Linked DNA regions of Homo sapiens. The protein of the gene in region 2 purifies or fractionates together with the protein of the main gene of each other region. This does not show direct contact. Each region holds a gene or a part of one and is shown on either strand. Other genes may lie near its edges.

The links.
Region 1: the proteins of SMIM43 (region 2) and LMBR1 purify together in Homo sapiens (affinity purification with mass spectrometry; 2 studies listed by BioGRID and IntAct, with this or other methods). This does not show direct contact.

The regions. Positions count from the first base shown.
Region 1 is NC_000007.14:156,883,172-156,890,198, reverse strand, and holds part of LMBR1 (limb region 1 protein homolog), read left to right. Parts: intron 1-7,027. UniProt on the Homo sapiens protein: Putative membrane receptor.
Region 2 is NC_000004.12:121,762,903-121,770,064, reverse strand, and holds the start of SMIM43 (small integral membrane protein 43), read left to right. Parts: upstream 1-4,900; 5' UTR 4,901-4,959; coding exon 4,960-5,151; 3' UTR 5,152-5,248; exon of another isoform or gene 5,249-5,480; intron 5,481-6,192; 3' UTR 6,193-6,301; intron 6,302-7,162. UniProt on the Homo sapiens protein: Required for mesendoderm differentiation. Interacts with glucose transporters and promotes glucose uptake. Probably augments the glucose uptake capacity of glucose transporter proteins to meet the energy needs of mesendoderm differentiation.

The DNA.
Region 1 (7,027 bases), on a different chromosome or scaffold from region 2:
ATTTCGAATTTATTTTTTTGTGTCTGGTGCAAGGTAGGAGTCATATTTTTTTCTCCCACAGGAATGTCCAATTGCTTCAGCACTATTTAGGACTTTTGTCACAGATAGGTAACTGTATATTCATAGGGTTTAATTTTGGACTTTATGTGGTTTTATTGGTCTATTTGTCTTTAGTTTTATTATTTTTTAAAATTTGAGACAGGTTCTCCCTCTGTTGACCAGGCTGTCGTGCAGTGGCGCAATCATGGCTCACTGCAGCCTTGACTTCCAAGGCTCAGGCGATCCTCCCACCTCAGCTTCCCAAGTAGCTGGGACTACAGGCTTGAATCATACAGGTGTGCACTAACAGACCCAGCTAATCTTTTAATTTTTTGTAGAGGTGAGGTCTCACCGTGTTGCCCAGACCTGTCTCCTGGGCTCAAGTGATCCTCCTGCTCTTTGGCTTTACTTTTAATTAATTAGATATTCTAGAATTTGGGTTGAGAAAGGGACACATTGTAAAACAGTCCAGAGCTTCGTCTACTCCCCTGAAAACGGTTTTGGTACCGATTATGGAGTTCTTTAGTTCTGACTCTCCTCACCTGTTTCCCTCAACCCAGTACCCCTGGCTGGTTGAGTCTACTCCATCTTCTACAGAACCAGCGCAGACAGTGACCAGGCTCAGGGTTCCCAGTCTTTGGCATTTCTTTCTCAAATGATTTATATTTAGAGTGAATGTAAATACTTTTTCTCTAAGACCTGTTGCCAATTTTTAAAATTATTCAATTCTTTCTGATTTTGCTACATAATGCTATAATTGCTTAACTTTTTTATCATAATAAGATATATATATATAACATGCAATTTACCATATCTAAATATACAGTTCAGTGGCGTTAAATACATTCACATTGTTGTGCAACCACCACCACTATCCATTTCCAGATCTTTTTCATCAACTGAAACTTGATACCCATGAAACAGTAACTCTCCATTCTTCACTCTCTCCAGCTGCTGGTTCTGCCTATATGAATCTGACTATTCCCAGTTGAACCATACAATATTTGTCCTTTTCTATCTGGCTTATTTCACTTAGCATAATGCCTTCAAAGTTCACCTGTGTTGTAGCATGTGTCAAAATTTCTTTTTCTTTCTTTTTTTTTTTTGAGACAGAGTCTTTCTCTGTTGCCCAGGCTAGAGTGCAGTGGCGTGATCTCGGCTCATTGCAACCTCTCCCTCCCTGGTTCAAGCAATTCTCCTGCCTCAGCCTCCCGAGTAGCTGGGATTACAGGCATGCGCCACCGCACTTGGCTAATTTTTGTATTTTTAGTAGAGATGGGTTTCACCATGTTGGCCAGGCTGGTCTTGAACTCCTGACCCCAGGTGATCCACCTGCCTCAGCCTCCCAAAGTGCTGGGATTACAGGTGTGAGCCACTGTGCCTGGCCTCATTTTTTAATTTTTTGTAGAGATGGGGTTTTTGCTATGTTGCCCAGGCTGTTCTTGAACTCCTGGCCTCAAGTGATGCACCCACCCTGGCCTCCCAAAGTGCTGGGATTACAGGCGGGAGCCAACGTGCCTGGCCCAGAATTTGTTCAGGCTGAATAATATTTTCTTTTTGTGTATACTGTATTTTGCTTACCCATTCATTCATCAATTGACCTGAGTTGTTTCTGTTTTTGGCTATTGTGAATAATGCTGCTGTGATCATGGGTATGCAAATATCTATTAGAGTCCCTGCTTTCAATTCAGAAGTAGAATTGCTGGATCATATGATAATTCTATGTTTAATTTTTTTTTTTTTTTTTTTTGAGACAGAGTCTCGCTGTGTTTCCCAGGCTGGAGTGCAGTGACTCAATCTCGGCTCACTGCAAGCTCCGCCCCCCCGGTTCATGCCATTCTCCTGCCTCAGCCTCCCGAGTAGCTGGGACTACAGGCACCCGCCACCACGCCCAGCTAACTTTTTGTATTTTTAGTAGAGACGGGGTTTCACCATGTTAGCCAGGAAGGTCTTGATCTCCTGACCTCGTGATTCGCCCGCCTCAGCCTCCCAAAGTGCTGGGATTACAGGCGTGAGCCACCACGCCCGGCCTCTATGTTTAATTTTTTTGAGGAACTGCCATACCATTTTCCACAGAGGCTGTACCATTTTATATTCCCACTAGCAAGGAGCCAGAGTTTCTGGTTCTTCCGCATCTTCACCAACACACATTGTTTTCTGTTTTTCTTCTTTTTTTTAAAATGGATGTGAAATGGTATCTGATGCTGGATTTGATTTGCATTTCCCTAATTATAAGTGAAGTTCAGCATTGTTTCATGTGCTTATTGACTATATGGACATCTTCTTTGGAGAAATATCTGTTCTTTGCCTGTTTTTGAATTGAGTTGCTTGATTTTTGTTGTTTAGTTTTAGGAGTTCTTTATATATTCTGAATATTAACCCCTTATCAGACATGTGATTTGCAAACACTTCTCGCCCATTCTGTAGGGTTGCCTTTTTACTCTATTGCTAGTGTCCTTTGATGCACAAAAGTTTTTAATTTTGTAGTCCAATTGATCTATTTTTTCATTTGTTGCCTGTGTTTTTTTGTGTCATATCCAAGAATTCATCACCAACTGGCATCATCACCAACTGGCATCATGAAGGTTTTCCTCTAAGAGTTGTATAGTTTTAGCTCTTAGGTTTAGGTCTGATCCATTTTGAATTAATTTTTTTGTACAATATAGTGTTTAACTTTTTTTTTTTTTTTTTTTTTTGAGATGGAGTCTCACTCTGTCGCCAGGTTGGAGTGCAGTGGCACAATCTCAAGGCTCACTGCAACCTCCGCCTCCCGGGTTCAGGCAATTCTCCTGCCTCAGCCTCCCGAGTAGCTGGGACTACAGGCGAGCGTCACCACACCCAGCTAATTTCTGTACTTTTAGTAGAGACGGGGTTTCACCATGTTGGCCAGAATGGTCTCAATCTCTTGACCTCGTGATCTGCCGCCTCGGCCTCCCAAAGTGCTGGGATTACAGGCGTGAGCCACCGCGCCCAGCCTAGTGTTTAACTTTTAAATACTCATGTAATAATTTTGTCTTTTGTATTATGAATATCTCATAGTTCTCTTGTCAGTTGCTTTAGTGATCATATTTGACTTTGGCTATTAGTATCAGGTAGTAATGATTGATTTCCTTTCTTTTGAGAGCTAGCTATGAAATCCTAAGGCTGCCAGCTAACTGAGTATACCCTCTCTTGGCTAAGGGGACCCCAGGAAACCTTAAAAACTGAATTCCCAACCAGAATGGGATGGGACATCTGACACGCCTCAGTATACCCCCTCCCTTTTGAGGTTTAAACACAGCTGACCAGCATTAATGTTAAAATAGAGATCTGAAGACTGAGAGAACAGACTCTTTGTGGCAATAAAATACCCAACTGTGAACAAAATGTAGGGCCATGCCAGGCAAGGGTTAAGTAAAGCATCCCCTTAAAGAATAAACTGGTTCTAACTGCCTCAAGGTGTTTCTTTTTTTCTAGCGGCTAAACAAGCACTGGCCTCCAGATAAGCAATATTAAGATAACTGCAGCTCACTCACTGCCAGACCCTAAGTGATCCCCACTCTCCTGTTCCACAAGCCATAACTATAGCTTTGATTGGACAAGAGACTGATTTCAGTAACTTTCTCCTGATAAGAGCACTGAGCATGAACTGGTTCTGGCCAGTTTACAGAGGCTGTGCACTTCAGTGCCTTCATGTCCCTGCTTCGCCATCTGACTACAGGGCCTCATTGTAATCCTTTTAGATGTTAAGTCTCCACCCACAAGTGAATATGGATAAGTATGTAACATACATGTTTATTCAGCCTGCATGTGCATGACCTCCCCCACTTTGTGAATATTCATAGCTCCTCCTATAACCTGTTAAATATATAAACTTGGCCAACCCGTTCAGCATAAATCCCTGTTCTATCCTCCCTTGAAGGTCTGTTTCTGTGCTCTGCGGGAGGATGCTTCCCAGCTATCAGGATTGCCACCTTGTAGGCTGTGACTCTTTACAAAATTATTTTTGAGGCAGAGTGTGGTTCCGTCACTCAGGCTGGAATGCTGTGGCACAAACACGGCTTACTGTAGCCTCTATCTCCCAGGCTCAAGAGATCTTCCTACTTGAAGGAAGTCTTTTTTTTTTTTTTTTTCTTTTTTTGAGGCAGAGTCTCACTCTGTCACCCAGGCTGGAGTGCAGTGGCACTATCTCAGCTCACTGCAACCTCTACCTCCTGGGTTCAAGCAATTCTTGTGCCTCAGCCTCTTGAGTAGCTGGGATTACAGGTGCCACCACCATGCCTGGCTAATTTTATTTATTTATTTATGATATGGAGTCTCTGTCACCCAGCCTGGAGTGCAGTGGCACAATCTCGGCTCACGATAACCTCTGCTTCCCGGGTTCAAGTGATTCTCCTGCCTCAGCCTCCCAGTAGCTGGGATTATAGGTGCCTGCCACCATGCCCGGCTAATGTTTTTGAATTTTTAGTAGAGGCAGGGTTTTACCATGTTGGCCAGGCTAGTCTCAAACTCCTGACCTCAAGTGATCCTCCTGCCTTGGCCTCCCAAAGTGCTGGGATTACAGGTGTGAGTCAATGCGTCTGGCCATTTTTGTATGGACGGGTTATTTCCGTGTTACCCAGACTGGTCTTGAACTCTCCTGGCCTCAAGTAATCCTCCTGCCTCAGCTTCCCAAAGTGCTAGAATTAGAGGTGTGAGCCACCATGCCTGGCCTGGCTGCGCAATCTAAATTCTTCCTTATCCTGGGTATGGCTTAAGCTCCCCTCTTGGCTAGAATATTTTTGGAACCAAGTCTGGGGTTGACTGGGACTTTTTTTTTTTTTTCTTTTACACGGAGTCTCGCTCTGTCACCGAGGCTGGAATGCAGTGGAGCGATCCTGGCTCACTGCAACCTCCGCCTTCCAGATTCCAGTGATTATCCTGCCTCAGCCTCCCAAGTAGCTGGGATTACAGGCGCCTGCCACCATGCCTGGCTAATTTTTGTATTTTTAGTAGAGATGGGGTTTTGCCATGTTGGCCAAGCTGGTCTTGAACTCCTGACCTCAGGTGATCCGCCCCTGCCTCGGCCTCGCAAAGTGCTGGGATTACAGGCATGAGCCACCGTGCCCAGCCAGACTGGGACTTACACAACAGAGATTTTAGAACCTTCCCATTTAGTTGGCTCCTTTTAGGCCAAATGGGAGGTGGGGAGATAATGGGGATAGAAGTATCCTTCATCTACTGCCTCTCTAGATGAGTTTACCTGCTGTTTTCTACTGGTGTCTTGCCCTCAACTCTATGGCTTACCCTTTATGCAGGAGATAAAAAACTTTAGTCCTTCCCACTTGGGAATAGTGGTTGGGCAGAAGGTGGGAACCAATCACCAATCTTGTATGTAAGTTCAGAATGCAGTTATCTTGGAGTCTGTAGTCTTCTGACCTTTGTCATTGCCCTCCAGTGAAAGACCTCCAAGAGCACACCTGTAGTTGGACAAATTGGGCTTATTGCATATTTCAGTGAGTTCCATGGGGAACTGTGGGGTGTTTCAGTAACTTTTCAAATGGGATTTGGGCTTCTACTAGGTAGTTTGGGAAGGGTTTAAGGAAGTGAGGCTTTGATCTGTATGGGGTGCTGTTAGGAAGCTGGAAAAATTCTGTAACTGGATAGCTTAAGAAATCTTTTCTAGAAGGAAAGAAGACTGGAATAAAGCTAAAGCTGTAACTGGTAAAGAAGCAACAGTCATTCCTGTTAGCCAGGATAGAGAGTTGGTCATTTCTGTGATTTGGACAATGTTCATGTTTTTTTTTTTGCTTGTGTTCAGGAGTGATTACAGAGTGGTCTTGTTTAGTCTTTATCCATCATGGTCTTGTCTGATATTGATGTTCTCTGAAATTGTTGATGTTCAGCAGAAGAGTCAGTCATCAAGGCCTAGGTGTGTGCCTTGCTCTGAGTTGTTAGCCAGTTTACAGCAACACCAAGGCCCAGCTGTGATATTACCAGGCCAGCTCCCAGATGTCAGGGGCTGCATTTCTTTTTCTCACGTGGTTGTAAAGTCTTCTAGTGGAATGATGTATTAGAAACAAATCCAATAGCCAACATAAGTTGAAGTGATTTTCTAACATAGAAGAGCAAAAAGGAATGGGATAGAGGTATAGAGGTTTCATTTGTATTTGACTTTTCTAAACTGGGTTAAATCAGCTTCCCCTCTGCGGTAGGCAGCATAATGGCCCCTGAAGTTGGTAATCCATGTGGTAATCCCTGGAGCCTGTGGTGTGTTACTTTACATGGGTAAAGGGATTTTGCAGATGTGAGTATGTTAAAGGAGAATTACCCTGAATTATCCAGGTGGGCTCTATGTGGTCACAGGGTCCTTATAGGAGAGGCAGGAGGGTCAGAGTCAGAGGAGATGTGATGACAGAGGCAGAGTTGGAGTGATGCCCTTTGAGGAAGGAGGAGGGACCATGAGCCAAGGAGTGTGGGCGGCCTCCAGAAGCTAGAAACGTCAAGGAAATGAATTCTTTCCTAGAGTCTCCAGAAGGAAGCAACCTTGCTCACGCCTTGATTTTAGCCCAGTGAAACTCAATAAATTTGTGTTGTTTTAAGTCACAAAGTTTGTGTAATTTGGTTACAGCAGCCATAGGAGATTCCTACTCCTTCATCAGGAGGCTTTGACTTTCACTGCTGTCCCTGTATATCTTACCACTCCATAGTTGTGTACTTGAGGTTAAAGGAAACTGGGACATTCTAATTACATTTGAGATAATTTTTCATGTCTTCCTATTCTGTCCTCCTTTTTTTTTTCTGAGATGGAGTCTTGCTCTGTTGCCCAGGCTGGAGTGCAGTGACATGATCTTGGCTCACTGCAGCCTCCGCCTCCCGAGTTCAAGCAATTCTCCTGCCTCAGCCTCCCAAGTAGCTGGGATTACAGGTGTGCACCACCACACCTGGCTAATTTTTGTATTTTCAGTAGAGACAGGTTTCACCTGTTGGCCAGGGTGGTCTTGAACTCCAGACCTCAGGTGATCTGCCT
Region 2 (7,162 bases):
GTGTAAAGAGCAAATCCTGTCATGGGGTGTTACAGTAACAGCTGATGAACTTTATACAACTCCCTCAGGCAGAACAATTCACTTTTCTGTTCTCCTATAGCAGCAAACATTCTCTTAGCCTTTCTAATTCTGATCTAGAGGGTTGTAGGGGTGATAAAGAGTATAAACAAGGAGCAATTTCAAAGAGGTCCAGTTTGTATCTCCTCCACAGAAATGAACATGGTGGTGTTTTTGTGTACGGGGCAGAAGCAAGGGAGATGAGGTGCCACAGAGGCGTGAATAGTATGGCTGGGATATTTCTGGGCCATTGGAGTCACCAAGATCATTGGGGCTGATTCAGGTCCTAACTAGCGAGGACAGTGTCCTAGGGCCTGGAAGCTTCCAAGGGGTATGGACCTCATCTCCAGCACATGCATGGGTGCTTTAAGGTGATCCCATCTAAGCAGTTCTTATGGCCTGCAGTACCTGGGAAGGTGTGCTGTTACTTAAGAACCTGTCTTACCAGCCAGGTTAACAACACATCTCAAGTCCAGAGCATGTTGCAAAACATTTGTTTTTTGGAGGGGTTCATGTCAGGCCAAGTTGAGTCAGCCTCAGACAGGTGCCCGGAAATCTCTTTTTCTCTTGTCTCCCAATCTTATCCTGCCCTTCTCCTGGGGAAGCTGCTTCCATCCTCCAGTTTCCCACAACAGGTAAGTCCAGGTAGGATTGTGACAGTAGATTTTTACAGCCCTTTCTAGGTGTCTTCTTAGGTGTTTAGACACTTTATAGAAGCACATTTACAAGACACATAAACCTTTCTGTTCCTGGCATTAATCATTTCTCATAAATATCTATGATGCTTGTTATGATCAAATACCTGCTTCCTATAAGAGGTGAGAGTGGGGAGGAATAAGGTGGGAAAGGGAAGGGGAACCCTCATCTTGCCCATGCCACAGAGGTCCATAGGCTAAGACCTTGGGCAGCTCCGGGGCAATATCTAGTTGTTTTGAGACCCACAGGGAGGAGACTGAGAAGATGAAAGATGCATGAAGTCTAACTCTGAGTGGGGGACGAGGCACGCTGTTAGTGGGAGTGTATGTGTGGTCCACACTGTGGGCAGCCGGATGAGATTGTAGTGACACAGCTCCCTCCACCTACCCATTTGTGCATCTTTTAGTTGCTGGAAGCAGCAATGCTCTTATCTATAGTGAGTATCCTTTCTGCTTTTTAAAATGCTTGGGTTTTCTTTCTATGAATTTCCATTAATGAGCATCTTTAGGAAGAGAAAGATTCTGCTTTATTCATATGGAGTCATTTATACAATATAAACTGAAGTTCAGAGCCTTTTATGAGATACATAAATATGACCAGAGGCTGAAAAACATTGGGAGCATCCACTAAATGTAATATGTTATTTTTCGTGGCAGCAATATTATTTTAAATACAAATTCTACGGAGAGTGAATATAAGAATTTATTAGTTAACACCTATAACCTATAAATCCATTTAAGCTGCTCAGATAAATGGATAATCTAAATAGTTATGGTTAGAAAGGCTGACATGGGTTGAGCTTGGCAACATAAAACCTTCATCCGTTGGCCTTTTCCCACAGCATTCTGCAGGCAAACACTGGCTCATTTGAAGTTCTGACCTTCAAGATTTCAAAAGTAGGAGCTGAGATGCAGAAGGCATATGTCTCTTGAAATGTGTTTCTTTTTAGTCTGACGCTCAAAAGAAAAAAATATGGTGATTAATTTGATGGTCATGCACACAAAAGTATACTTTTCCCTGAGAGGCAGTACAATCATGAGGGTTGGGAGTGCAGGCTCTGGAGCCAGACTTCCTGGGTTCACATCCCTCTCCTGCCACTTGCCAGCGGTGTGGTCTTCAGCAAGTCACTTAACCTCTCCATGCTTCAGTTTTCATCCTTAGATACCTTGGATATCTGGATGGCAATGTGCCAAATCACATGCCTTTCCGACCAAACACCTCGTTAATTAAGAGTGCTTAACATGTGCAAAGTACTTAAGCAATGCTTTCTTAATTGGTTAGCATTCTCCTTTGAAAACTGGCGCTAACCACTCTGCCTCGCAGCAAGATTTCCTGGAAAGCCAGTGGAAGGTTACGGAATGGAAAGAAAGCAGGAGGGCCCAGTCTGGGCCAGGAGTTGAGGATGCTGTCGAAGCAGGTAGCAGTAGCCATGGCTAGGTCACTCTTGGGACTGTTCTGGCACTCAGATTGCCTGTGCAACGGGGATGCATCTGACTTCCGAACATTCCTCCTGTTCTGTCAACTCCCAAGATTCAGAGTACTGGAGACAAGGATATTTAGCTAAATTTCTGGCATAGCTCTTCCTGCCCTCCTCCCCACACTGTATCAGGAGTGGGTAAAAGATATATCTGATCCCCTTGGTTTCCATAACAGGAGGTGGCAAGGGAAAGTAGGCACTGGGATCTGTCTTCTTGCCAAGATTACATAAAATGGAGAATTCCACCCGTAGGAACATGTGGTGCTTAGAGTGGAGGTGTGTGGATTCTGGGCAGTCAAAAAAAAAAAATCACAAATCTTTGCTAAACTTGTATAAGACTTCAAATTTCTCTCAATAGTCCCACGAGCAGTGTTGTGCTGGTTAATTTAACAACTGCCTCCCTGGTCCTGATTTGTAGCATTTGTCCATTTTCTCAAGGCAAACCCACTCATCATGGCTAATTTCAAGCTACCAACATGACAGCACTGAACACAGCTGGGAAGAGATGCGCAGTAACATACCACTATGCAGCATCTTCACCACACAGCTACAACAGATGTAAATAACCTCAAGTGCATAGACAGCAGTGAAATGTAGTACTGAGGTTGGTGCAAAAGCAATCACGGTTTTTGCTTTTAATGACAAAAACCGTGATTGCCTTTTTACCAACCTAATAAAATAATTAGAAAGTGATGAGTTTGGAGTATTAATTACCTTTGTTGTTAACATAATTGTAGGTTTATATAATTTAACTTTTAATAATAGCTGGAATTTAAAAATTGGTTTACAAAATTTAACAATCAGCTCCTGTGAGTCATTACGAGCCAGCTCCAGCATACCACTGCCTATGAAGTGGATCAATATAATGTTATTGAGAGAGAGACAAAGAGAAAATGAAAGAAAGATTCTTCTCACTTATGCACTAAGATGCTTGATGGAGAGGCCTAGGGCCTGGAAATTTTGTACAATAGCTTGTAGCATTGGGGGCCCTTCGTAATAGAATAATAACAGTATCTGACATTTATATAGCAAAACACATTTTTATTTAACATTTTCTCATTTTTGAGCCTCACAACAAATCCAAGGGAAAGATAAGCAAGGCATGTTACAGATGAGGGGACTGAGAGTCACTGAGCAAAAGTGACCACTGACAGAGCTGACACTAGAATCGGGTCCATGAGACTTGCAGTTCACAGACTGTTTTCATACCACCCTGTCTCTTTGAACCCCTGTCATCCCTGGAGCAGCCACTTATTACAATCTGGGATGTTGTCAGCCCTCATCCCCAGAATTCAGTCCAGGAGGCAATTCTGCATCTTCACAAATAAAGAATAAAATAAAGTTAGGCCTACAAATGGGCAATGATAGCTGGCTGTATTAACAGCTGTCATAGCCGACTCTAAGATGAGCCCCAGTGATCCTTACTCCTTGGCGTTCGTGTCCTTGGACTCCTACCCTGAATAGGGCTGACCTGTGTGACCAGTAGGATATTACAGATCTGATGGCACGTGACTTCTGAAGCTGGCGGTAAAGAGCACTGCAGCCTCTGCTTTGTTTTCTTTCATCACTTGTTCTGGGGGAATCCCGCAGCTGTATTGGAAGCACCCATGGAAGGGAACTGAGGCCTCCCACCAACAACCAGCCCTACCTGGCAAGCAGTGAGTGAGCCACCCTGGAAGTGGATCCTCCACCTCTACACAAGCATTCAGCTGAAGGCAGACCTGGCTGACATCTGAACGGAGCCTCATGAGTAACCCGACACCAGAATCACCCAGCCAGTGCTCCCACATTTCGGACCCACAGAAACTGTGAGAGATGATCAATGTTTATGCTGTTTGAAGCCACTAAATTTGGGGGTAATTTGTTCTGCAGTAATAGATACACTGAACAGCTTTTAAAGCTGCGCGATATGGGCTTTGGGTCACGTCAACCAGATACAGAAAGGCTTTAGGGACTCAAGAAACACTTTGAGTAAACTTGTTTTCCTCTTTTCACCAAATAAACTGAATTTGAGGCCAATATTTGAAATCTTTGTGCTATATAACTTCTGAAATACATTGTATTCTTAATGCGTTTCCAAGTGACCTGTTGTCCATAGAAAAGTACACTCAACACTGAATGTATCTGCTACTCTGAAGAGCAAGACAGCTCGAACTGGAATTCACTCAGACACCTCATAGCACGAAATCATCTCATAGCCTTTCAGACCCCATCTTCACTGCCACCTTTCATTCTTTTGGGTCTCTGGGCCATGACATCCCCTGTCCTTTCGGAAAGCAGGAACGGAGGGATATAACGAAATAAATTAATTGGGAACGCAGCGGAGCTAGGGACCCTACTGGATGTTGGGGGTGGAACTTTTAAATCATTTACAAAACACCAGTCCCGACCTCCCCTGGAAGACTGAGCTGTTACCTCTTCTGGCGTCCGTGCCCGCGGAAGTTCGCTCCTAGGGAAGTCGCTCGCGTCCTCAAGAGCACCTGAGAGGATCTCGGCGAAGCGGAAGGCTTTGGTGCCAGCTGGGAGAGTCTGCGCCGGATTTCCTCAGCTCCTTGGCGCGTTTCCTCGGAGCCGGGGGAGGCAAAGCACGGACCCCGGAGTCGGCGCCCATAGCGGGACGCCCTCGCGAGGGGCGGGAGTGCGGGAGGTGGGTGTGCGGGCGGCGCGCTCGCCCTCCAGCTGCAGCCCGCGCCGAGCGCGCAGGGCCAGCGAGCGCCGGCGCCTCCAGCATGGAGTGGGAACTCAACTTGCTGCTCTACCTGGCGCTCTTCTTCTTCCTGCTCTTCTTACTTTTCCTCCTGCTCTTCGTGGTCATCAAGCAGCTGAAGAACTCCGTGGCCAACACGGCCGGGGCGCTCCAGCCCGGGCGCCTCTCGGTGCACCGCGAGCCTTGGGGCTTCTCCCGAGAGCAAGCGGTGTGACCCGAGTGCGGGCACTGGCGGGAGGGCACCGAGCTGCGCGGGCGCTGGGCTGGGTCTCCGCCTCGATTCTCCGTCCTCGCGGCCTCCCAGCTTCCAGGTGCGGGGCTCGGCGGCTCTGACGGGTCCGTTCCGGCGTGAGGCGCAGGGACCCGCGTCTCCGCTCCTGTGGGAGGCCCGGGGCTCGCAGCGCGTTCGGGTGCCAGGGACGGTGGGTGTATGGGGTCTGGGCTGGCGCTGTGCTCTTCGAGAGGGACCCTAAGCTGTTCCAGGGCTGGGAGAGATGGCGAAAAGAGAATTCGCCCTTTGGAGCCGGAATGACTTTGGACAACTGCAAGCTCTTTTCTGTCCAACTGCATTTTAGTTATACCCAAGGAGTGGAAAAGTAAATTATTCGGATAATGCAGTTTAGCCACTTTCGAACAAAATCGCAGGTTAACCTGAATATCCACATTTTTGAGAAAGACTGTGTGGGCTTTGGGACGGGTGGCAGGAGGAAACGGGGCGCACTTAAAGTATTTTAAATATTGCTTTAAATATTTTTGCGCTTTGAGAGATGGTAAATGGGGTTCGTCTGGTGGTGCTGGGGTGGGGCGTGGGGGAGAGAAGATTCAGTCGTCCATTTGGAGGGAGGAATCCCTTCCTCCCGGTGATCCTTACTCATATTCTAGCCACCAACCACGGTTAGTGCTTGCGGATTGCCGTGCAGGGTAGGTTTCGAATCTGGGACAGCGGATGGTGAACGTTACAGTGAGAGTCATTTGGAAGATGCCTTAGGGTTGGCCGGTACGTGACCTTTTGGGTGATGGCATGGAGGGCCAGCTAAAAGAGGTACTGTTTGCATAGTGTAGGGAAACAGGAAAAAGGACGGAGAGGCGGGTCTGTGGTTTCAGGTTAAATTACTAGAGCTTTTGCAGAAGATGGGCGGGCAGGAGCAAACTCGAGTACCAGTATGCCCTAAGTACCCTCTCGCTAATGTTAGTTTGGGAAATATCTTCATCCTTCAGTAGCTTTTCCCTAGATTTATGTCATCTCTCTTTCTAGAGCCGAGCTGCTGCCCTTGACTGGTGCTCAGGGGACCACAGCTGCAATGACAGTTTGGGCCTGCAAAAAGAAGGCTGGAACAACGGGAGATGGAAGCTTTCTGCAAATGGTAAGTTGGGATGACGCATGGTTTCACGTTGGCCTTAGTTATGACTAAACTTCTAAAGATCCAGGGCCTAAAAACATGTTGGTTCAGGATGGGGGAAATGGGTACAAGGAAGGAAAGGGCACTCTCCCACTCAAATCTGGTGAGCTTCTACCAGATCCACAAAGCCAAACTGACTCCTAACTCATTGCAAGAATCAGTGTCTTAGTAGAGGATTGTGGAAATTTGAATGAGATGTCAGGAGTGTTTGCACTTTTAATAATCATTCGGCCCTTTTGAAAAACAGTGCGGGGGTTCATGGGGTGAAATATGTGATGCAGATATACTCAATCTTCAGTAAGGGAAGATTTGGGTTTAGTCATGTCAGTGTGGGATAAGCTAAGTCATAACTATAGTATTGAAAATACTAATTTTAGACACAAAGACCATATAGAGAGGCTAAAAACAATGAAATACTAAAGTTTGCCTAAGTTGATAATATAAAAGTGAAGTGTAAGACAATTATTTTAATGCTTCAAAGGAAAAATAGTCTCAGGTGAATAATTTTGGCCCAAGACATTAGATAATTTCCCACTTTCTATTTCACTCTCCCCAAATAGGCCTGTTCTTAATGAAGTAAGAGGTTTACTTTAATTATTATGGTATGAGCAAATCCTCACCTCTTTATCAGAGTTATGGTAAGACTTGATTTGAATTCCCAGTTTGAACTCCCTGAATCAACTGCAGTGATTCTGTATTGTGCTTTGAACAATAGTTCTCTAATTGGTTGATATCTCTGCAGTGGCATTTAGTTAAAAGGTTGTATGGTTAATATGGACATTGAAGATGAGTGTGGGAGTAATTAATTAGCAATTATAGTTGTTT